3 linked regions of the Homo sapiens genome follow. The protein of the gene in region 2 interacts with the protein of the main gene of each other region in a biochemical or structural test. Each region holds a gene or a part of one and is shown on either strand. Other genes may lie near its edges.

Evidence for each region. Proteins that work in one complex are often made in the same cells at the same time.
Region 1: the proteins of NUP62 (region 2) and NXF1 form a complex in vitro, tested with the Homo sapiens proteins (3 studies listed by BioGRID and IntAct).
Region 3: the proteins of NUP62 (region 2) and KPNB1 form a complex in vitro, tested with the Homo sapiens proteins (2 studies listed by BioGRID).

What each region holds. Positions count from the first base shown.
Region 1 is NC_000011.10:62,795,441-62,802,440, reverse strand, and holds part of NXF1 (nuclear RNA export factor 1), read left to right. Parts: intron 1-180; coding exon 181-264; intron 265-394; coding exon 395-499; intron 500-621; coding exon 622-702; intron 703-809; coding exon 810-879; intron 880-1,023; coding exon 1,024-1,112; intron 1,113-1,239; coding exon 1,240-1,347; intron 1,348-1,954; coding exon 1,955-2,064; coding exon of another isoform or gene 2,065-2,119; exon of another isoform or gene 2,120-3,865; coding exon 3,866-3,902; intron 3,903-5,054; coding exon 5,055-5,123; intron 5,124-5,202; coding exon 5,203-5,258; intron 5,259-5,873; coding exon 5,874-5,981; intron 5,982-6,095; coding exon 6,096-6,154; intron 6,155-6,259; coding exon 6,260-6,375; intron 6,376-6,497; coding exon 6,498-6,540; intron 6,541-7,000.
Region 2 is NC_000019.10:49,919,102-49,926,991, forward strand, and holds part of NUP62 (nuclear pore glycoprotein p62), read right to left. Parts: intron 1-7,890. UniProt on the Homo sapiens protein: Essential component of the nuclear pore complex. The N-terminal is probably involved in nucleocytoplasmic transport.
Region 3 is NC_000017.11:47,673,919-47,680,918, reverse strand, and holds part of KPNB1 (importin subunit beta-1), read right to left. Parts: intron 6,282-7,000; coding exon 6,137-6,281; intron 4,511-6,136; coding exon 4,428-4,510; intron 3,900-4,427; coding exon 3,792-3,899; intron 2,874-3,791; coding exon 2,730-2,873; intron 2,612-2,729; coding exon 2,506-2,611; intron 900-2,505; coding exon 785-899; intron 412-784; coding exon 250-411; intron 1-249.

The sequences.
Region 1 (7,000 bases), on a different chromosome or scaffold from region 2:
AAGTGTAAGTAGACAGAAAGGAGTTAAAGAATCTATGTGTATCTCAAGTAGAAAACCTAGTACTGGTCCTTTCTTTAGATAGTCTTTAAAAGTTTGGTAGAAGGTATAAAAGGCATTGTATTGGGTCTGCTATTCAGCCTTACTTATCATTCCCTTCTTTTCTCTTTCTCTCATTTCTAGATTCCTTATGGCAGAAAGTATGACAAGGCATGGCTCCTGAGCATGATTCAGAGCAAGTGCAGTGTGCCCTTCACCCCTATTGAGGTAAGACAAGGCCTGAGTGGCTGGCTGGCCAGGCACCAGGGATGGTGAAGGGGCAAGCTGGACTCCCAGCGTAATGCCCCTCCCCAAGGGCTCTGGACTCCCAGTGTAATGCTCCTGTTTCCTCTTGTAGTTTCACTATGAGAATACACGGGCCCAGTTCTTCGTTGAAGACGCCAGTACTGCCTCTGCATTGAAGGCTGTCAACTATAAGATTTTGGATCGGGAGAACCGAAGGGTGTGTTTAAAGGGCCTGGCTTGGCTGGAGGTGGAGGTTGGTGCTCAGAGCAGGGACTGGGTCTTGTTCTTGCGGCTTAGGCTTCCCTAGAGTTTTCTGTGCCCTCTGTGTCTTCCCTCCAGATATCTATCATCATCAACTCTTCTGCTCCACCCCACACTATACTGAATGAACTGAAGCCAGAACAAGTAGAACAGCTAAAGGTGAGGCAGGCTCAAATTAGATGTTTCCAACCCAGTCTTACTACTTCTCACACCCCCACCCCCCACACACAAACCCAGTGACCACTAAACCCTTCTTTTTCCTCTAGCTGATCATGAGCAAACGATACGATGGCTCCCAACAAGCCCTTGACCTCAAAGGCCTCCGTTCAGACCCAGGTATGGTTGACAGCAGTAGTTCTCAGATAGGTGGTGATAAGGTGGGATCTGTCAGGGAGGGAAAGTTTGAGGATGTTTTACTGCTAATGCTGGCATGGGCAAACCCTCTCAGTCTTCCCTTTCCTTCCCTTCTGCTTCCTGAAGATTTGGTGGCCCAGAACATTGACGTTGTCCTGAATCGCAGAAGCTGTATGGCAGCTACCCTGAGGATCATTGAAGAGAACATCCCTGAGGTAAGGCCTTTGGCCCAGTATTAGGCATGAGGAAGCAGGGTGTGTTAGATAGGAAGTGGCTGGAGGGCAGATTCGTCTCTGATCCACTTGCTGGTGGTGCCTCCTCTAAACTCTTCTCTCCTCACAGCTATTGTCCTTGAACTTGAGCAACAACAGGCTGTACAGGCTGGATGACATGTCTAGCATTGTTCAGAAGGCACCCAACCTGAAGATCCTAAACCTTTCTGGAAATGAAGTGAGAATTGATAGCTCGGCTATATTTTTGAAGGGGTGGGTAGAGGGTGTAGAGAGTTTGTCCAGTGATGGCAAGAGGCAAGAGAGAGAACTCAGGCCAGATGTGCTGGTTTGCAACTCTAATCCTAACACTTTGGGAGGCCAAGGCAGGAGGATCACTTAAGGCTAGGAGTTTGCACGCCTCTAGTCCAAGCTGCCCCAGGGGGCTGAGGTGGGAGGATTGCTTGAGCTCAGGAGTTCAAGGCTGCAGTGAGTTATGATTGTGCCGTTGCATTCTAGCCTGAGCAACCTGTCTCAAAAAAATTTTTTTAATTTAAAAAATAAATTAGTCGAGCATGATGTCACATGCCTGTAGTCCTAGCTACCCAGGAGTCTGAGGTGGGAGGATCTCTTGAGTCCAGGAGTTTGAGGCTGCAGTGAACTATGATCATGCCACGGCACTGAACTTGGGTGACAGAGTGAGACCCTGTCCCAAAAAAAAAAAAAAAAGAAAAAATTTTAAAAGATTAGAAAAGATCTCAGAGCTAAGCGTAGGGACTGGGGGTATGGGGAGCCAGCTGGCTGTCTTCACCAGGGTCTCCTCCCTTTGTTCCTTCCACCCTTTGCAGTTGAAGTCTGAGCGGGAATTGGACAAGATAAAGGGGCTGAAGCTAGAAGAGCTCTGGCTCGATGGAAACTCCCTGTGTGACACCTTCCGAGACCAGTCCACCTACATCAGGTCAGTTGTAGCCTGTGTCTCCCCTCCTGGGGACCTTCACCCCCTGGGAGGCTGAGCTAATGCATCCTGACCAGGGCCCGTCTGCGGAGATGTGCAGCCCTGAGCTGGAACCACCTGTCCTTTGAGAGGATCGCGTGCTCCCCACTTTGGTCTGTCTGTGTCTTCCAGCTTTGTCCTGAGATGTTCTCTCTTCTCTTCTGACTTGACTATCTGTTTGCTGGGTCTGTGGCCTTTCTCTTTCTTCCTGAACACAACCTTTTCTAGAATCTCCCTACCCTGTTGTTCCAGGAAAGGCATCTCCCCTTTCTACTCTAACCAGAGGGTATCTTGTACATACCCTATAGATGGGGTTGCCTTGTGCCAAGAGCCTGGTGTCCATGGGTTGAGGAAGCCCTCCCTACCTGGGACTTCCTACTGAGATGGGCCTTCCCTCCTTTGTACTGTGATGGCCCCTCTTGCCCTTGCGCCAAGAGGGACCCTTTTCTCAGGATCCACTTGCCCAGGGCTGTTGCTGTCCATGCTGAGGTTGAGGCCTCCTAGGGGCTGGTGGCATGCAATCTGTCTCTCTTGCCCAGTGCTATGAGCTGGGCTCTCCCTGAAGAAGAAACCTGGGTTCCCCAAGATGTGACCAGAGCTGGGGCCCCGCCAGCAGGCGAGGGAATCCCAAGGCAGGTGCTGGGCGTGGAGGCCACGGGGGCATAGGCTACCAAGGAGACAGAGAACTGACCCCCTCGGGGGCGCTGCCTCTCCCTCACTCACACACTGCACGTCACCCTGTTTGGCCCCGGTGGATGGCTGGTTAGCCAGAGACGGGTAAGATTCCTCAGGGAAGGAACAACCTAAGACAGGCACAGTCGCAGAGGGGCCATCAGGAGAGAACTTGGGGGCAACAGAGGTGGGGCATGGACCCTCACCCCCACAATCCTACAGGGGCCTGAACCCTCACACCTTCTGAGGGAGGTCTCCTGCCCCCATGGCTGCTTTGCTTCCCACGCCCAGTTCAGATCGGGACCCAGGTAGCAGACAGAGACCTGGCCAACAGCAAGTGCCCACTCACCACAGCAAGGATTTGTTTCTCATTTCTACCTTGGACCACAGGGATGGGGCAGCTGAAAGAAAGGGCTGTGTCAGGGTGTCTTTCTCCCTTTTCTCCCTCATTTTTCTAGATGCTTTTTTGCCTTGTAGTTCTTTCTCTTTTTCTTTGCTTTCTCTTTCCTTTTTCTGTCTGTCTCCTATACCTCCCCATCTCTCCCTTGCCCCTGCCCCATCTTGCCTTTTTCTCTTTTTCCTCCTTTTCCTTTCTTATTCCTTTGCCTCTCCTCTTCCTGAGCCCCACCTGCTCATCTCCCTGCCCCAACATCCTGTGCCATCCCTGTGGTGTGTTTGGGTCTTGGCCAAAGCCAGACCTGGCAGAACTGATGGATACCTGGTGAGGCAGCGGAGCCCCTGGGCTCCCACCCCATTCCCTCCTCCCGGGGCTGCACAGGTGAGTAGGTGGAAGGTAAGGGGGGCAGGGAGGGGAAAGAGGTCCTGGGCTTAAAGCCTGGGCTTGGAGTACTGCTCCTTGACACTCAGGGTCAGGCAGAGAGAAAAGAGACAGCCTTCAAGGCAGTCCATGTCTGGGTGCCCCGGGTCAGGTGGGGAGTGGGGGCCATTTTTCCCTGAGCACAGGCTGGGAGGGAGTGGAGGGATGAGCAGGATGGGATGGGCTGTCCCTCGGGTTTGGTATATTTGCTCCTAGAGCAGCCCAGGAGGCACGGTGGCTCTGAAGCATCACTCACTTCTGTCCCGTTCTTGACAGCGCCATTCGCGAACGATTTCCCAAGTTACTACGCCTGGTAAGTCCATAATTTTTTCATTCTAACAAGCACAGCATCTCTCACTCACAAGGATTCCTGGATAGGTTTCTTTTTCTTTTTCTTTTTCTTTTTTTTTTTTTTATTTGAGACGGAGTTTCACTCGTCGCCCAGGCTGGAGTGCAACAGCATGATTTCAGCTCACCGCAACCTCTGCCTCCCAGGTTCAAGCGATTCTCCTGCCTCAGCCTCCTGAGCCCAAGTAGCTGGGATTACAGGCATGTGCTACCACACCTGGCTAATTTTTGTATTTTTAGTAGAGACAGGGTTTCACCATGTTCGCCAGGCTGGCCTTGAATTCCTGACCTCAGGTGATCCACCTACCTCGGCCTCCCAAAGTGCTGGGATTACAGACGTGAGCCACTCGCACCAGGCCCTTTTTTTTTTTTTTTTTGGATGGAGTCTTGCTCTGTTACCCAGAGTGCAGTGGTGCAATCTTGACTCACTGCACCGTTTGCCTCCTGGGTTCAAGTGATTCTCCTGCCTCAGCCTCCTGAGTAGCTGGGATTACAGGCATGTGCCACAATGCCCGGCTAATTTCTTTGTGTATTTTTAGTAGAGATGGGGGTTTCATCTTGTTGGCCAGGATGGTCTTGAACTCCTGACCTCAACTAATCCATCCACCTTGGCCTCCCAGTGTGCTGGGATTACAGGTGTGAGCCACTGCGCCCAGCCTGGATCCCTGGATACTTTTCATGATGCGTTTACACTTGACTTCTGACCCTTCTCTCTTAGTTCTTCAGTCTACTTATGCACCCAGCCTTTTTCTCTCTGGTTTAAACTGTCAACTTTCTTTTTTGTTTGTTTTGTTTTTTGAGACAGGGTCTGGCTCTGTCATCCAGGCTGGAGTGCAGTGGCACAATCGTAGCTTACTGCAACCTTCGCCTGCCAGGCTCAAGTGATCCTCCCACTTCAGCCTCCCAAGTAGCTAGGACTCCAGGCACGCACCACCATGCCCAGCTAATTTTTGTATTTTTTTTGGTAGAGATGGGTTTTGCCACGTTGTCCAGCCAGGCTGGTCTCAAACTCCTGAGCTCAAGCCATCTGCCTGCCTCGGCCTCCCAAAGTTCTGGGATCACAGGTGTGAGCCACTGGGCCCAGTCTACACTGTCAACTTTTACTTCCTTTCCACAGGATGGCCATGAGCTACCCCCACCAATTGCCTTTGATGTTGAAGCCCCCACGACGTTACCGCCCTGCAAGGTAGGAAGCATGGACAGAGTAAGAACTTGTGTGTGGAGAGAATACTGCTTCCATGTTCCTAATACCTGTTTGATTTCAGGGAAGCTATTTTGGAACAGAAAACTTGAAGAGTCTGGTCTTGCACTTCCTGCAACAGTAAGTATCCCAGGGTCCCCCCTCCCCACCCCGAGGTTGAGGGGGAATGGTGGGCAGACCCAGGCACACATCAATCTTTTTGTTTTGTTTTTTGTTTTGTTTTTTTTTTTTTTTTTGGACAGTGTCTCACTGTGTCACCCAGGCTGGAGTGCAATGGTGTGATCTTGGCTCACTGCAACCTCTGCCTCCCAGGGTTCAAGTGATTCTCCTGCCTCAGCCTCCCCAGTAGCTGGGACTACAGGTGTGTGCCACTGCACCTGGCTAATTTTTGTATTTTTCGTACAGATGGGATTTCACTATGTTGGCCAGGCTGGTCTCCAACTCCTGACCTCATGATCCACCTGCCTCTTCCTCCCAAAGTGTTGGGATTAGAGGCGTGAGCCACCGCACCTAGCCATTTTTTTTGTATTTTTAGTAGAGACAGGGTTTCGCCATGTTGCCCAGGCTGGTCTTGAACTCCTGGGCTCAAGCTATTCACCCATCTCAGCCTCCCAAAGTGCTGGGATTACAGGCATGAGCTTCCATGCCCGGCCACAACTCACTCTTGGGAGCTACTGGGTCCTTGTATGGCTGTAGACCACAGAGCCCATACTTTCTTTTTTGTTTTTCCCATAGGTACTATGCAATTTACGACTCTGGAGACCGACAAGGGCTCCTGGATGCCTACCATGATGGGGCCTGCTGTTCCCTGAGCATTCCTTTCATTCCTCAGAACCCTGCCCGGTTAGTATCACATCCCAGAATCTGCCCGGGACCACTGGGTTTCCCAGCAGATACAGGGCACACCTGCTGGCAGCACTGCTCTGAACACCACGTCCATTCCTTTTATTCCCCCAGAAGCAGCTTAGCCGAGTATTTCAAGGATAGCAGAAATGTGAAGAAGCTTAAAGACCCTAGTAAGTGTGTGATACGAACAAAATATGGGAAAAGGGCATGGGAAGGAATCAGTCAGAACTCAGGAGTGTGTGGCAGCACCACTGAGCTTTCTCCTCTACCCACAGCCTTGCGGTTCCGGCTGCTGAAGCACACGCGTCTCAACGTTGTTGCCTTCCTCAATGAGTTGCCCAAAACCCAGCACGACGTCAATTCCTTCGTGGTAGACATAAGCGCCCAGACAGTAAGCTCCTGCTTGCGCCTGACAGAAGCCTAGAATTGGGGTGGGGGTGGCATTTAATAGGCAAGGGGGGGCACTCAGGCTCTGAGAAGTGTACATTGTACCTGATGCTGCTTCTCTTTCAGAGCACATTGCTGTGTTTTTCTGTCAATGGAGTCTTCAAGGAAGGTAAGAATCTTTAGAGTCCCGAGTTTGTAGCGTGGTCCCACCCCCAGCTGGAATTTTCCTCAGCACTCTTAGCTTCCCAGCTACTTTCTCTCCCATTTTCTTTTTGAGCTCCTTCTCCCATTCTGCCCCCAAGCCGTCTTGGCTTGGCCTACCTCTCCACCTGTCCTGTCTGGATGTGGGAAAAGCCTGGGGATTAGGAGGACTTTGGAGTCAGGCAGTTCTTAGTTTCCATCCTAGTTTTGGTTGTGCGGGGCTGTGGACAAGTAACATTACCTCTAAGACAGATTCTTTATTTGTAAGATGGGGTTAGTAATAGCCGTCTCATAGTGGTGCTATAGGAAGTAAACTGAAGTGACTTACAAAGTGCTTGGCCTGGGGCCTGGCATACAGATGCTATCAGTGGATTAGTAGTTATTACTTTTTTTTGAGATGGAGTCACACTCTATCACCAGGCTGGAGT
Region 2 (7,890 bases):
GAGATCACACCACTGCACTCCAGCCTGGGCAACAAGAGTGAAACTCGGTCTCAAAAAAACAAACTAACTCATTTTGTGAATAGGTAGTATGTTCACATTGTTGTAGCTCAAAAGGTACAAAAGGGAATAGTGTGGCCTGTCTTCCCTGAGTCCCACAGCCTCCCAGCCCTGCTCCCTGGAGACAGGCTGCTGTTGCACATCTTTGCAGAGACTTGCTGTGCGTTTAAACAAAAGCGTGGTTGGCACTATCCCCACCTGCACACAAAAGGCCGCCTGCTACATGCACTGTTCTCTACTGTTCTTTATGTATCTTAGAAATCGTTTTAAGCAGGCTTATTCTCCTCACCCGGGTAGATGAGGAAACCGAGGCCCTCAGAGGGGGCGACTTGCCCAGGGTACCAAAATCCTGCCTCTGCCACTTGCTACACAGGATGGCCTCAAGGCAGTAGCTAAATGATTTGTGGATTCACTGATTTTCAACCTTCTCTCCTGCTTTCCCCTGAAGTCACCTGACGGCTAATTAGCAGCTACTTTCTCCTTCCCACTCCCCAGGCCCAGAAGCTACCAAAGGAGCTCTGGTCGCAGGACCAACAGCAATTTTCCCCACAGGAAAAACGAATCAGCTAAGACAACCATGGAAAAGTTAGGAAACAGCCAGAGAGAGATTTTAAGGAAGATTCTAGAACCACCGCTTGCTCTTAATATAAAAGGACTGGAAGAGATTTGAGGAATACTCTGGTGCCAAGGCTTCTTCCTTTTTGGCCAATAACTTTTATTTCTTACTCTTGTATTGAAAGTTTTTTCCCCTCTACCTACTGCATTAAAAAAAAATTTTTTTTTTTCTAAGACAAGGTCTCACTCTGTCTCCCAGGCTGGAGTGCAGTGGTGCAATCACGCTCATAGCCTCAACCTCCCGGGCTCCAGTGGGCCTCCCACCTCAGCCTCCCTAATAGCTGGGATTACACATGTGTGCCACCACACCAGCTAATTTTTTTTTTTTGAGACGGAGTCTCACTCTGTCATCAGGCTGGAGTGCAGTGGCGTGATCTCAGCTCATCGCAACCTCTGCCTCCCGGGTTCAAGCTATTCTCCTGCCTCAGCCTCCCAAGTAGCTGGGACTACAGGCGCGTGCCACCACACCCAGCTAACTTTTGTATTTTTAGTAGAGACGGGGTTTCGCCATGTTGGCCAGGATGGTATGAATCTCTCGACCTTGAGATCCGCCCACCTCGGTCTCCCAAGGTGCTGGGATTACAGGCGTGAGCCACCATGCCCGGCCTAGGAGTTTCTTTTTAGCGTGATGAAAATGTTCTAAAATTGACTGTGGTGATGGCTGCACAACTCTGTCAACGTACTAAAGCCACTAAGTTGGACACTGATAAATGGATATGGATTATACAGTATCTCAATAAAGCCACTCAACCAACCAACCGACCAACCAACCAACCAGGGGGTGCTGGGAAGGGGTTGAGAGGCCTCCATGAGGCTGTGGAGGCGGATAGGCGTCAGGCTCAGAGCTGACTTTACCCCGAGGGCAACGGCTCGGGCAGAGTTTCTAAGGGCAGGCCCATGCCTTCCTTGGGGTGGCCGGTAATGCTGGTTGAGAACAGGCTGGGGAAGAGCCTAGAGCTGAAACGCTCTGGTTGGCGGTGCAGGCACAGGACATCAAGGCCTGGAGAGGGACTGAGGCATCAGGGCTGAGGGACTCTGAGAGCAGCGGACAGGCGTGTGTGGCGGGGGAGGAACGGCGCACACCTGTGCCCCATCCGCAGCCCCTCTTCTTGTCAACATCAGCTTCCCCGGGGAGAGGCAGTGATGTTGGTGGGGGAAGGAGGGAAGGGCCCAGGCCGGGCTGTGGTGGAGACGGTTGCTATGGAGGTTTCTCTGGGAACCAGGTGAAGGCAGCCAGAAGATGGGGGCAGGGTGGCTTTCATTATGAGAACTGGAAGCAAACACAGCCCCTTCCTGCCTCGGCGGACATCTCCACACCCACATTTCATGGCATTTCTCACGCGCTGGGCTGTTTCCAGGGCTTCACCTGTTCTCACTCACTTAACTTTCCCCCAGCAATGTGACGAAGCGAAACTATCATGGCTCCCATTTATAAATGAGCAAACTGAGAAAGGGGAGAGGACTTCAGTCACCTGCGTAAAGTCCCACAACCAGTAAGGGCTGGCCCAGGTGTCTGGCCCCACAGCTGAGCTCCTAACCGCACCGAGCCTCTCCAAAACATGGTCTTTTTTTGCTCCCCACTGCCACCACCATCACCGTCCCCTGCCTCATCCAGTCCCCCTTCCCATTCTCCAGAGACTTCCTGGGCCATCTCCATGACCTTCCAGACCAGCCTGGGCTTCACTCTCAAATCCAATTCAGGATGATCCGCCCGCCCCAGCTGCAGACGATGGCCTGAGACGCCTGCAGGGAAGAGAGGGGCGTCCGCTGCTCGCCAACCCCCATACGTTCCTGCTCTGTGGTAGGTCAGGAAGAAGAGGGCAAAGGAGTCTGCATCAAACTGGGCTAAGGCCTGGCGCTCTGATGGCCGCTGACCTCAAAACTCTCCATGGGGGGTACCCCTCTGCCCATTGAGGGGGCACCTAGGGAGCCTAGGGGTCCCGTGAGGCCCTCCCACCATGGTTCCCCGCCTCTGCCTCTCCCCGCAGCTCCGACCATGACCATCCATCCTATGAGTGCTGGCTGGGCTCAAGCCCGGGTACTTTCCTCCGTGCCCAAGCAACCCTGTAGGAACCACATATCCTGGGCCAGACGAATGCAGGAGCTGCCTCCTCTGGACACAGCGGTGGCTCTCACCTCCCTTCCATCTTGGCAGGATGAGTGCATTTGCTGCGAGAAAGCAGCCCCGACGGCAGGGCCCTAGGGCCCCAGGCCAGGCCACCACGACCACGAGGGACCAAGACAACAAGCCCACTCCTGAATCACGCCTCAACACAGACAACATGATGTCCAAACCACAGAAACGACCAAACACCCCTCCTGACTCAGAGCTGCTGGCTGTTTCTCAACTAACCCCGGCGGCACTAGCTCCCTTTGCTTCTCAGGCTCTAGGTCAAATAGATGCGAGTCATGGGCTTGCCCCTGACACAGCCCAACTCCTCAAGTTAGCCCAAACGCCTCCTTATTGAGGTGCCCTGCGAGTCCCTGTGGGGGACAGTCTTCCTGCCGCAATGAGCAATGTGCTCCTGGTGGCCTCTGGCTGGGGGCATGGGGATTAGGAAGAGAGTAATAAGACACCAGCCCCACTTCCAGCAGGCATCCTGAACCTCAGGAAGGATTCTTTAGGCCTCCTCCTCTGCTCCCCAGAAACACTGTCCTCCCCTCCTTCACATGGGACCGGGCTGTGTCGGAATGAAGCCCTACTCCGTCTCACTGCTTGTAAAGTCCAGCACAGAGGGGACCAGCCTCAATCCTCGGAGACTCTTGGAATGAGGGCTGGGTTCCTTTTGCTCTCTGCTGTGGACAGAGAGGATGACAGCTGTGGGGAGGGGAAGTCACAGAGGGCCAGCAGCCTGAGTCCTGTCCACACTGGTGGTTTGCTGGGGTTTTCCAGGTTTTTCTGAATTACTTGCCTACCTTTAAAACTTGGATCTCACAGAAAAAAAAAAAACTGGATTTCCAGCTTCTCCCGTGAAACCAGCAGCTTTGCACCACCAGCGCTGCCAGTGTTGCTGCGGCCCCGGTGCCTTTCAGGGGCCCAGGTGCTTCTGGGAGCCACCCCTCCCTCTGGGCCTGACACAGGGCCCAAGGTGGTCAGCAGTTCACCGGTCCAGGCCTCTTCCCATGTCAACCCCCTGCCCCTCCACACTGCCCCAAGGTAGTTCTATGATTGTGCCCATTTTACTGATGAGGTGACCACAGGTCGGGGGGTACAGTATCTTGTCCCAGACCACTAAGCGGTGAGTGATGGCATCCTGGGCTCTAGGACACTGGTGTCAGTTGTTATCAGTTTGCTGTGTCCCTTTTTTTTTGCATAAGAGCTGTGACTGCTTCTACTGAAGGGACAAGGGCAGGCACAAGGGAGGGAAGGGGCTCTGGAGGACTGTGGGCCACGTGGCAGCCTGTGCTGTCTCCCAGCCCCCGCGTCATCCTCTCCCCAACTGAGCTGGCCTTGGCCTACCTGCCCTTGTTTGCCAGGACTCCCACCTTCAACCCCGGCACCCCTGGCCTGCGTGACCCAGTTACCCTCCCTGGCTCCTCTCAGGGACCTCAGTATCACATTCGCTGGCCTCTGTGCTGAGCAACTCATTAGAAAATGTATTGATGCCTACGGAAATAGCAGCACAGGGCGGGGGGTTGTGGGGAACGTTTCTGGGAATGAGGAGGGCCCTGACTTTGCCCTCGAAGCGTTCGGGGGAGCAGTCACGTAGGCAGACATCTGCACACGGCGGATCTGAAAGCAGAAGCAGGCGTGGCGAGAACAGAGAGAATCACACACAGACCCGGGCTCTGGCAGCCGCCGGCTTCACTGATGCCATCTCCACAGCGCTCCCACACCAGGCCCCAGAGCAGGAACTACTGCTCACAGGGCATTTCCCTATGCCAGGCCCCACTCTAGGTATTTCACGCACATTTACACATTTAATCCTCAAAACCACCGTCTGCAATGGACCATCTCATCCCCATTTTACGGAGGGGAAACTGAGTCATAGAAAGAGGATGCCACTTGCTGAGGGTCACAGAAGTGGTGGAGTTGGGGTGTGAACCCAGCAGGCTGGCTCTAGGGCCCATGCTCTGACCCACGCTGCGGAAGGCAGCCGAGGCTCGGCAGATGAGGGCCCTGCCTGCACTCCAGTCTACAACTGAGTGCTGGGCTCAGGACCAGAACCCCGGTCTGTCTGATGCAAAACTCGGAGCCTTTTCCATCATGCCAGGAGGCCACCGTGATTGGGAAAGCAGTGAGGAGTTGCGGCAATAGCAGGGCGATGGCACGGTGCAGGTGCAGGCAGGAATCGATAGCGTCTGGCAACTGTGAGCAGCAGCAGGCCTGAGGTGAGGGTCAGGGCTTGGAGACCTCCCAGAGACTACACCATGGGCCTCGGGGCCCTGGAAGCTGTGCAGCATGGTGGAGGCTGAGGTCCCATCTAACTGGCACTGTGATTTTCACAACCCCCCTTACCTCTCGGGACCTCAGTCTTGACTCCTGCTAACAAGCCTCTGTGATCTGAGGCCCCTTCTTGGCACCGAGCCTCAGATTCTCAGGGTCCTGCACGGGTGGCTGATCTCCCTCCCTCTCCACACCACCCCTACTCTTGCTGTGCGGGGGTTCTCCCTTATCCAAGGCTCTGCTAACCGGGAGCGGTTGCCAGGTGTGCTGGGGTCCCCAGAGAATCCCCGAACTCCCCGTCCCCGTCAAACAGCCAGGGCTGATGCAACCTGCCTGCAACCACCGCCTCACTCCCCAAGCCAGGCCCCTCCGCACCGAAAAAGAGTCCCCAGTAGCCCCACCCTTGCTTCAAGCCCCAGCTCAGGAGTTGAAGGGGAGCTCGAGGCTGGGGGAGGCCAGGACATGAGTCCTGAAGGGGCCACAGGCCTGGGTCAGGAATGTGCACACGAGGGGACTCAGGGTTCGAAGATCTGGGGAGAAGGGTCGCAGGCAACCACTGATGACCGGCTATGAACTAGAACAGGCTGGGAGGGGCTGGAGAGCTAAGGGTGCCAACTGGCACCCACTCACCCTGAGTCCAGCTGCTAAGTCTGGCTGGGCTGAAGTGGGTGGGACCCAATAGCTAGAGAGAAAAGGCGGCAAAACGGTGGGGAGGGGAAGCAGAGTCCCTGCCCAGACACCTCTGCAGCCAGCATAAACCGCACATAGCCAGCAATGCAATTCTCCTACTGACCAAGCTATTAAAAATTACCCACACCGGGCCAGGCGCGGTGGTTCACGCCTGTAATACCAGCACTTTGGGAGGCTGAGGCGGGTGGATCGCCTGAGTTCGGGAGTTCGAGACCAGCCTGACCAACATGGAGAAACCCCGTCTCTACTAAAAATACAAAATTAGCCATGTGTGGTGACACATGCCTGTAATCCTAGCTACTCGGGAGGCTGAGGCAGGAGAATCTCTTGAACCCAGGAGGCAGAGGTTGCGGTGAGCCGAGATGGCACCATTGCACTCCAGCCTGGGCAACAAGAGTGAAACTCCGTCTCAAAAAACCAAAAAAATTAAAAAACAAAACAAAACAAAAAACCCAGGCCGGGCACAGTGGCTCAGGCTTGTAATCCTAACACTTTGGGAGGGTGAGGCAGGAGGATCGTTTGAGCCCAGGAATCAGGAATTCAAGACCAGCCTGGGCAACATAGTAAGACCCTCCCCCCCATCTCTACTAAAAAAAGCCAAAAAAAAAAAAAAATAGCATCCTACCTGGCCATCCTCTCAATATCCCGCAATCCCAGTCTGAGACAAAACCAAATGGAAGCACATTCCATAAAATACCCAACCAGCATTTTTCCAAACTGTCAAGGTCATGAAGGACAAGGAAAGTCTAAAACCAGTCACAGGCCAGAGGAGGCTGCGGAGCCATGATGCCTAAATATAACGTGGCATCCTGAAGGCATCCGGAAGGAGCAGAAAGGGCATTAAGTAACAACTACCAAAATCAGCATCAAGTGTGGTCAGAATCAAGAATGGCATTTGGTCAATGGTAACATACTGATGTTGCCTTGGTTGTGACAAATGTGGCAAAGTAATGTAAAATGTTAATGGAAAAAACCAAGTGAGGGGCATACAGAAATTCTCCGTATTATCTTTGCAACTTTTCTGTTGAGTCAATCTACAATTATTCCAAAATAAAAAATTTTATTTAAAAAATAACCCCCTTGGGTACGGTGGCTCACACCTGTAATCCCAGCACTTTGGGAGGCTGAGGCAGGCAGATCACGAGGTCATGAGTTCGAGACCAGCCTGACCAACATGGTGAAACCCTGTATCTACTAAAAATATAAAAATTAGCCAGGCATGATGGTGCATGTCTGTAATCCCAGCTACTCTGGAGCCTGAAGCAGGAGAATGGCTTGAACCTGGGAGGCGGTGGTTGCAGTGAGCTGTGACGGTGCCACTGCACTCCAGCCTGGGCAACAGAGCGAGACTCTGTCTCAAAAAAAAAAAAAAAAAAAAAAGCTAGGTCTTGCTTAAGACTGGGTGTGGTGGCTCATGCCTGTAAATCCCAGCATTTTGGGAGGCCGAGGTGGGTGGATCACCTGAAGTCAGGAGTTCAAGACCAGCCTGGCCAACATGGCAAAACCCCGTCTCTACTAAAAATACAAAAATTAGCCAGGCGTGGTGGTGGGCGCCTGTAATCCCAGCTACTTGGAAGGCTGAGGCAGGAGAATTGCTTGAATCTGGGAAGTGGAGGTTGAAGTGAGCCAAGATCATGCCACTGCACTCCAGCCTGGGCGACACAGCAAGACTCTGTCTCAAAAAAACCAAACCAAACCAAACCAAACCCAGTCCCCATGTACAATCTAGAAGATCTTCGTAGGAAAAGATTCTACCGGCGGGGCGGGGGAGATAGGGCACGTCTGTGCGTCCTTACCACTGGCAGTCTGCCCAACAGTCTACCCTTAATTCCATCTGCTTTTGTTCAAAAATCTATACAGCAATGGAATGAGAACACATCCACCTTAATTACAGCAATAACAATAACCACTTTTATGCAGCACCTACTGTGTCCCAGGCGTTAGTCTAACTGCTCGACACGGATTAACTCATTTAATCCTTGTAACAGCCCTAAGAAGTAGGTACTTTTTTTTTTTTTTTTTTGAGACGAGGTCTCACTCTGTCACCCAGGCTGCAGTGTGGTGGCACAATCTCGGCTTACTGCAACCTCCGCCCCACCCCAGGGTTCAAGTGATCCTCCTGCCTTAGCCTCATGAGTAGC
Region 3 (7,000 bases), on a different chromosome or scaffold from region 2:
ATTAGGACCCAAAATACTCAGGGAATTTCAGTGAATTCCAGTTTTAAAAGTTCTGCTCTCCATCACTATGAGGAGTCAAACATTTGGCTCAAGGAAAAACTGAGGCTGCCTGACTCAGAAGCACCTACATGGGAAAAAGTACAAACAAAAAAAATGCCAGAAGGCAGTGCTTGCCAGAATGGCCTAAAGAAAACATACCCCCCTCCTCCAGGAAGTAGAAGAAAGAGGACAGTGGAGGCAAGATCTTACCAAGCTTGGTTCTTCAGTTTCCTCAGTTCTTTTGTTGCCCATGTAGCAAGGGTTTTTGCTTTGTTAGTCTTCGATCTCCGCCCTTCAGTTAACAATTCATGGATCATTGGCCTAGCTTCTACTAATTTCAGTACATCCTTCCCAAATGCTGTACATAAGTCCCTGTGCAAAACAAACACAGCTGAGAATGAGCTCCTAGCCCCATACCAGTATAATGTTTTGAGCCTTCCAAACCAGTGCTATGGGTTTCTTAGCAAATTTCAAAGATAAATAAAACCCTCAGTAGAGGTCACTAGACAGAGGCAATTGTTGACCAACATCAGAGTTTAATGGGGTGTAATACAGACACCTTGAGGGTCTGGAATAAACTATCATGTGAACACTCAAAACAGGACATGAAGCGTTCTGCAAAGAAATCTCTGTGCCAAAAAAGTGAACTGTTGCCATCCGCGATACTCTCAAAACTCCTTACTCCATGTTTTCTCATTTTCTGTGAGAAGTTCTATTCAGCTCTTAGAAGCAGGGTATAACTTACCCTATTAGTCCAGCAGCACAAGCTACTACTCCATCTGTGTGATCCTCATCTCCAGCAATGTGGTCAATGAAAGACAGAATAAATTCTACTCTGGGTTGTACCAGCATCACATCCGCTATAAAAGAGAGAGAAGGTATTGGTCGGGTGCGGTGGCTCATGCCTGTAAACCCAGCACTTTAGGAGGCCCAGGCGGGTGGATCACAAGGTCAGAAGATCGAGACCATCCTGGCTAACTCGGTGAAACCCCGTCTCTACTAAAAATACAAAAAAATTAGCCGGGCGTGGTGGCGGGCGCCTGTAGTCCCAGCTACTCAGGAGGCTGAGGTAGGAAAATGGCGTGAACCCAGGAGGCGGAGCTTGCAGTGAGCCGAGATTGCGCCACTGCGCTCCAGCCTAGGCGACAGAGCAAGATTCCATCTCAAAAAAAAAAGAAAAAAAAAAGAGAGAGAAGGTCTGATGCAGCTGTCCCTCATATGGCAGGACTACATCCTTTTTCAAAATTTCCAACTATTATACCCCTATCATACAAGGTCCAAGCTGGATAACTAGATGCATATAGTTATATCAAATTATTCTTCCTTTGATTAATGTGTCGTTCCTCAAGTCGACAGAAGAGACAAATATTCCTCTTCCTATAGGCAAATATAGAAGAAACAAATTTAACTTTTTCCTGAGCTAATGATACCAAGGGGGGTGAAGTAAAAAATTTCCCCAATCAGCAACAAGAACACGTAACGGGAATTATGACTCCCCAGTCCTCCAATTTAGCTTGTGGGGATGGGAAAGGGGTAGGGGACCTGCCACTCATGGTTGATACAGGAAGCATTTATGTTGGGTTTCTTCCCCCCAACATTTTTGCTGAATCCCATCCCTTGTAATACTCAAGAAATATGAGAAAAAGAAGCAGAGGGCTGGGTGCAGTGGCTCACGCCTGAAATCCCATCACTTTGGGAGCCCAAGGTGGGAGATTGCCTGAGCTCAGGAGTTCGAGAGCAGCCTGCAAAACATGGTGAAATCCCATCTCTACTAAAATACAAAAAAAAAAAAAATAGCTGGGCATGGTGGTGTGTGCCTGTAGTCCCAGCTACTCAGGAAGCTGAGGCATAAGAATCACTTGAACCCAGGAAGTGAAGACTGCAGTGAGCTGTGATCGCTCCACTGCACTCCAGCTTGGGTGAGAGTGAGACTGTCTCCAAAAAATAAAAATAAAATAAAATAAATTTAAAAGGCTGGGCACAGTGGCTCAAGCCTGTAATCCCAGCACTTTGGGAGACCAAGGCGGGTGGATCAATTGAGATCAGGAGTTCAAGACCAGCCTGACCAACAAGGTGAAAGCTTGCCTCTACTAAAAATATAAAAATTAGCCAGGCATAGTGGCAGATGTGTATAGTTCCAGCTACTCAGGAGGCTGAGGCAGGAGAACTGCTTGAACCTGGGAGGTGGAGGTTGCAGTGAGCCGAGATTGCACGACTGCACTCCAGCCTGGGCAACAGAGTGAGACTCCGTCTCAAAACAAAAAAAAGAAAGAAGAAGCAGAGCAAAAACAGTAGTCTACAGTTTTCCCCAAGCCACTCTCTTCATTAGGGCACTGCTCCCCCTTCTCCCAGCCTTTTAAGCAACAGGCACTAGGTTCACAAGCGAGCTACAGAATGACAGACATAGCCCACTTGGCTAAGTGCACATTGGCGAGCGGACGAAGGGAACTGGGTTGTATACTCAACGGTGTACGTTCTCCTGATCCCCCTTTAATCCCTGGACGATTCCAGTATAGGCTTCCAAGCAGCTTTCCCTTAGCTCATTCAGATAATCCACCATGTCATAGTCTGACTGTAAGACACAAAGAACAGAACCTACATCACACTGATCACTTTTAGCTGCATGTTTGTCAATAGTCCCTCCAATTAGAGCTAGACTTAAAGAACAGCCAAGATAGCTTTAAGCTTACCTTGTCCACCTGGGCTTGGGAGGCCTGCTGAAGAGTATTCAATACAACCTCTAAGTATTTTTTAAACTCTCCTCCAATAGCAAGGGCAATATCACCAAACACTGACAGAATCTGCGGCTTCACAGACCTGTGGACGTTCTCATTCTGACAAGGAACAAAAGGAAAAGTGAATTAAGTCAAAACTTGTTTGGTCCAAAGATTCATGAAAATTTCATTTCTAACAAGCAACTATTGATTTTAAATATTTGGATGGTCCTTTATAGCTTACAAAACCTTTCCCATTTGCACCTCACACCAACTCTAAGAAGCTAGCCCAGGTATTGGTATTCCCACTTTACACATGAGGAGACTGACTTAAGAATCAAGTGACTTGTCTGAGAACACACATGTACAATAATTAATGATGGCTATCTCTGGAGAGAGGTATAATATACAAATGGTCCCCTGCTCATGATGGTTTGATGATTTCTCCACTTTACAATGTGTTTATTGGGACCTAACTCCATCATAAGTCAAGGAACAACTGTATTTACTTTTCCTTTGCATTTTACTGTTTTGTTTTAAAAATCTCTAATAGAGCACACATTCCTTTAACTTTACAATCTTTCTTCAGAGTCATCTGTGAAATGAACAACTCCCCTCTTTATAAGCCCAAAGCCAATGTTCTAGAAACTTACAGCTCCCTGTCACTGATTTTTTTTTTTTTTTTTTTTTTTTGAGACGGAGTTTGGCTCTTCTTGCCCAGGCTGGAGTGCAATGGCGTGATCTTGGCTCACTGCAACGTCCACCTCCCGGGTACAAGCGATTATCCTGCCTCAGCCTTCCGAGTAGCTGGGATTACAAGCGCCTGCCATCACGCCCGGCTAATTTTTTTTGTATCTACAGTACAGACGGGGTTTCACCATGTTGTCCAGGTTGGTCTCGAACTCCTGGCCTGCCTCGGCCTCCCAAAATGCTGGGATTACAGGCCACTGCGCCCAGCCTGGTCGATATTTAACTATCTTTCCAACTGTTGTTTTCTTCAAAGAAGACTGGTTAATTAGATTGTGTGTAGATACTCACCCCCAAATTTTCCAGAAGCAGCTGCATCACCTCGTCACAGAAAGGTATGATGTTGGATTGCAGGGCACGGCACAAGTCTCCCACTAAGCCCACAGCTGCCAAACAAACCTGCCAAGAATCAAGGAAATAATCTTCTAACAGAAAAGGCTGCCTGCTGGGGCAAGATATTATTTTTAACTAGCTGCTGAGCTTTTATCACTTGAACCTAGAGTTAAATCCCTCTGCCGAGATTAATTTTTCAACAACCAACATGGCAGGCAGGGAACAAAGACTATCCGAGAGAGATCACTGATAAAGTTAAAAAAAAAAAAAAAAAAAAAGCCTTGCTCTCCAGGGTGCTAATAGCTCAACTTTATAGCTGCTCCTGCATTAGTACTGTCTAAGCAAATAAACAGTCATCTTGTCCACCATTATCTGTTACATCTAATATCTTGTCCACCGTTATCTGGTACATCTAATATCCTGTTTTTCATGGACTACTTCCAGTTCAAACGTTCAGGCAATGAATAAAGTAGCTTGCCTTTTAGGACAATGTATCAGGAAAAACTACTTAAGCTATAAGAACCTGGTTTTGCGTGCACTACAGTGACTGTCAGATATAAATGGGAACATACTATTTTGAAAAGCACATCCTACCTGGTATTCAGCATAATTTTTTAATCCAATGCCCAGGAAGGGTTTAAAGGCCTCCATGTACTTGAGGAATTCACCACCCAACACTGTAATGAAATAAGCTATTAGCCAATGACAGCACCACGGGTTAACACAGAGGCAGGCAGAAATAACCCATCCTACCTCTCCCAAAATGTACTCGCTCCACTCAACAGGTTGGGTGAAATGTGCTTTAGTTACCGATTCCATCATGAAGACATTAAAGGCTTGCATAAGCCAAATTTATTACTGCTGGAAGGGCCCTAATTCATACGCCACAGAGACAATGCCCACTGTCCACAGAATAGGGCTTTACTCTGACTAATACAACCAAGTGGTATGACCCTCAAGGAATGTCAAGGTTAATTTTAAATGGGCTGAACCAGCAATACTGACTCTTGTCCACCTCCTCATCTGATAATAGCATGTCCTTTCTGCAAGCCAGCTTCAAAACAGGGTCCTTAGGCAATTCCATCAAGGGCTAAACAAGCCACAGCCAGGAAAAGCAGCACTGGGCTTCAGATCCAAATCAGCCACTCCAGGAGCCAAAATTAACTTCTTTGCCCTTTCAGAGGAGTGGTCACATGTTGACAGACCAGTTGGACATAGGCTGTTTATGCCAAAAATAGGTCTAGTCCTCAGGAGAGTGGTCCTCAGGTAAATGGCCTTAGCAATGTACTTACAGGCCACCCCTGAAAAGGCATATCAGATTCCTAAAGTGCTTCGTAATGCCCCTTCAAAGAGTCTTAAGTCAGATATGGCTTCCCCAAACCAATTTTGCAGTCAGACATGTAAAAATCAGAAAATCAATTCCTAGAACTCGCTCAATGTTTCATTTCATCCCATACCAGGCACCATGATGTGTCAATCTTAGTCCAAAGCACTACAAACCAAACCAGGTGATGACAAGTACCAGGAAAGAAAATAGAAACTTTTAGCAGGGCACAGTGGCTCATGCCTATAATCCCAGCTACTCAGAAGGCTGAGGCAGGAGAATTGCTTGAACCTGGGAGGTGGAGGCTGTGGTGAGCCAAGATGGTGCCACTGCACTCCATCCTGGGCAACAGAACAAGTCTCAAAAAAAAAACAAACAAAAAAAAAAAACAAAAAAAAAACAACACCTCTGCCAATCTCCGTTGCAAACTGGCTCCCCATTTAAATGGACTGACAAGGCAGTTATACAAATTTAAGTGGTGTGCACTTAAGTTCAATCTAACTTTGAAGTGACTCATGCCCCAGTAAAAGGACTATGCTTTCTATAGTCAAAAATTCTTTAATGCTCTGACAAGGAGGCCCAGGAGTTTGAGACCAGCCTGAGCAATATAGTGAGACCCTATCTTCACACACAAACAAAATTAAGCTGGGCCCAGTGGCTCACATCTATAATCCTAGCACTCTGGGAGGCTGAGGCAGGAGGATCACTTGACTCAGGAGTTCAAGACCAGTCTGGGCAACATGGCGAAACTCCATCTCTACCAAAAATATAAAAATTAGCTGGGCATGGTGGTGTGCATCTGTTAGTCCCAGCTACTGTGGGGGCACTGAAGTGGAAGGATCATGTGAGCCCACGATTTCAAGGCTGCAGTGCGCCAAGATCGTGCCACTGCACTCCAGCCTGGGTGACAATTATTTAAGGCCACTGAAATGCCTACATTCCAAAGACATTCCCTGACCAGACAGTATTTCTCACCGACCTTCCACCAGTGTGCTAACTGCCATCAGGGCATCCTCTTGTACTCCCCCAGACCCAGCTGTGCTTTGGAACATCCTTAACAGGGAGGCCATAACCACATCAGAGATCTGCAAAGCATCTTGATGTTGCACTTTCCGAAGAACATTCTGTGAAATGAGTAAGAGTTCAAGATCAGTTGATTCCAAATCTCCCAATCAGAACACTATACCTTTTCTTTTTAAAATCAATTAAGTCCCTTGATATTTTTTAATTTTGGGAATGCCAAATGTATTTTATACACAAAAACATTGACAGTACCAATCATCAGCAATACATTTTAACATTTCTCCTGTTTCTCAATTCAGAACAAACGTGAGCTGATCCTCCGTTGTGCAGAAGGTCATGTCCTCTCAATTTCATTTGTCTTACTGTCTGACAAATCCCTGCTGGTAGCCGCCATAGTCCAGTCTTACTGGAATGATAGTTAAATTACTTCAGCTTTAGAGAAGGCCCTATCACCTTAGAGCTCTTATTCATAAAACAAACAAAAAGCAACCCTTCCTATATCCTACCTATTTACAGATGACCTAGAAATAAACTTGATAAAATCAAACCAACCTGACTTCTCCCATCAAACATTCCTTCCTCACTCGTTTGTTTCAACTAATGTCACTGACATTAGGTCAAACAGCAAATGTTTCAAAAGATGACGGTACAAATTCAAGGCTTTATTTTTAGCCAAGTGAACTATAGCTGGGAACCAAATCTGACTGAGCTAGGCTTGAATAACCTAATGAAAAACCAAGAGTTTTTTGGTTTTCAAAATAAAAAAACCAAAACCATTCAAGCTGCCAACACAAATGAGCTATACATCTGGAAGGAACCA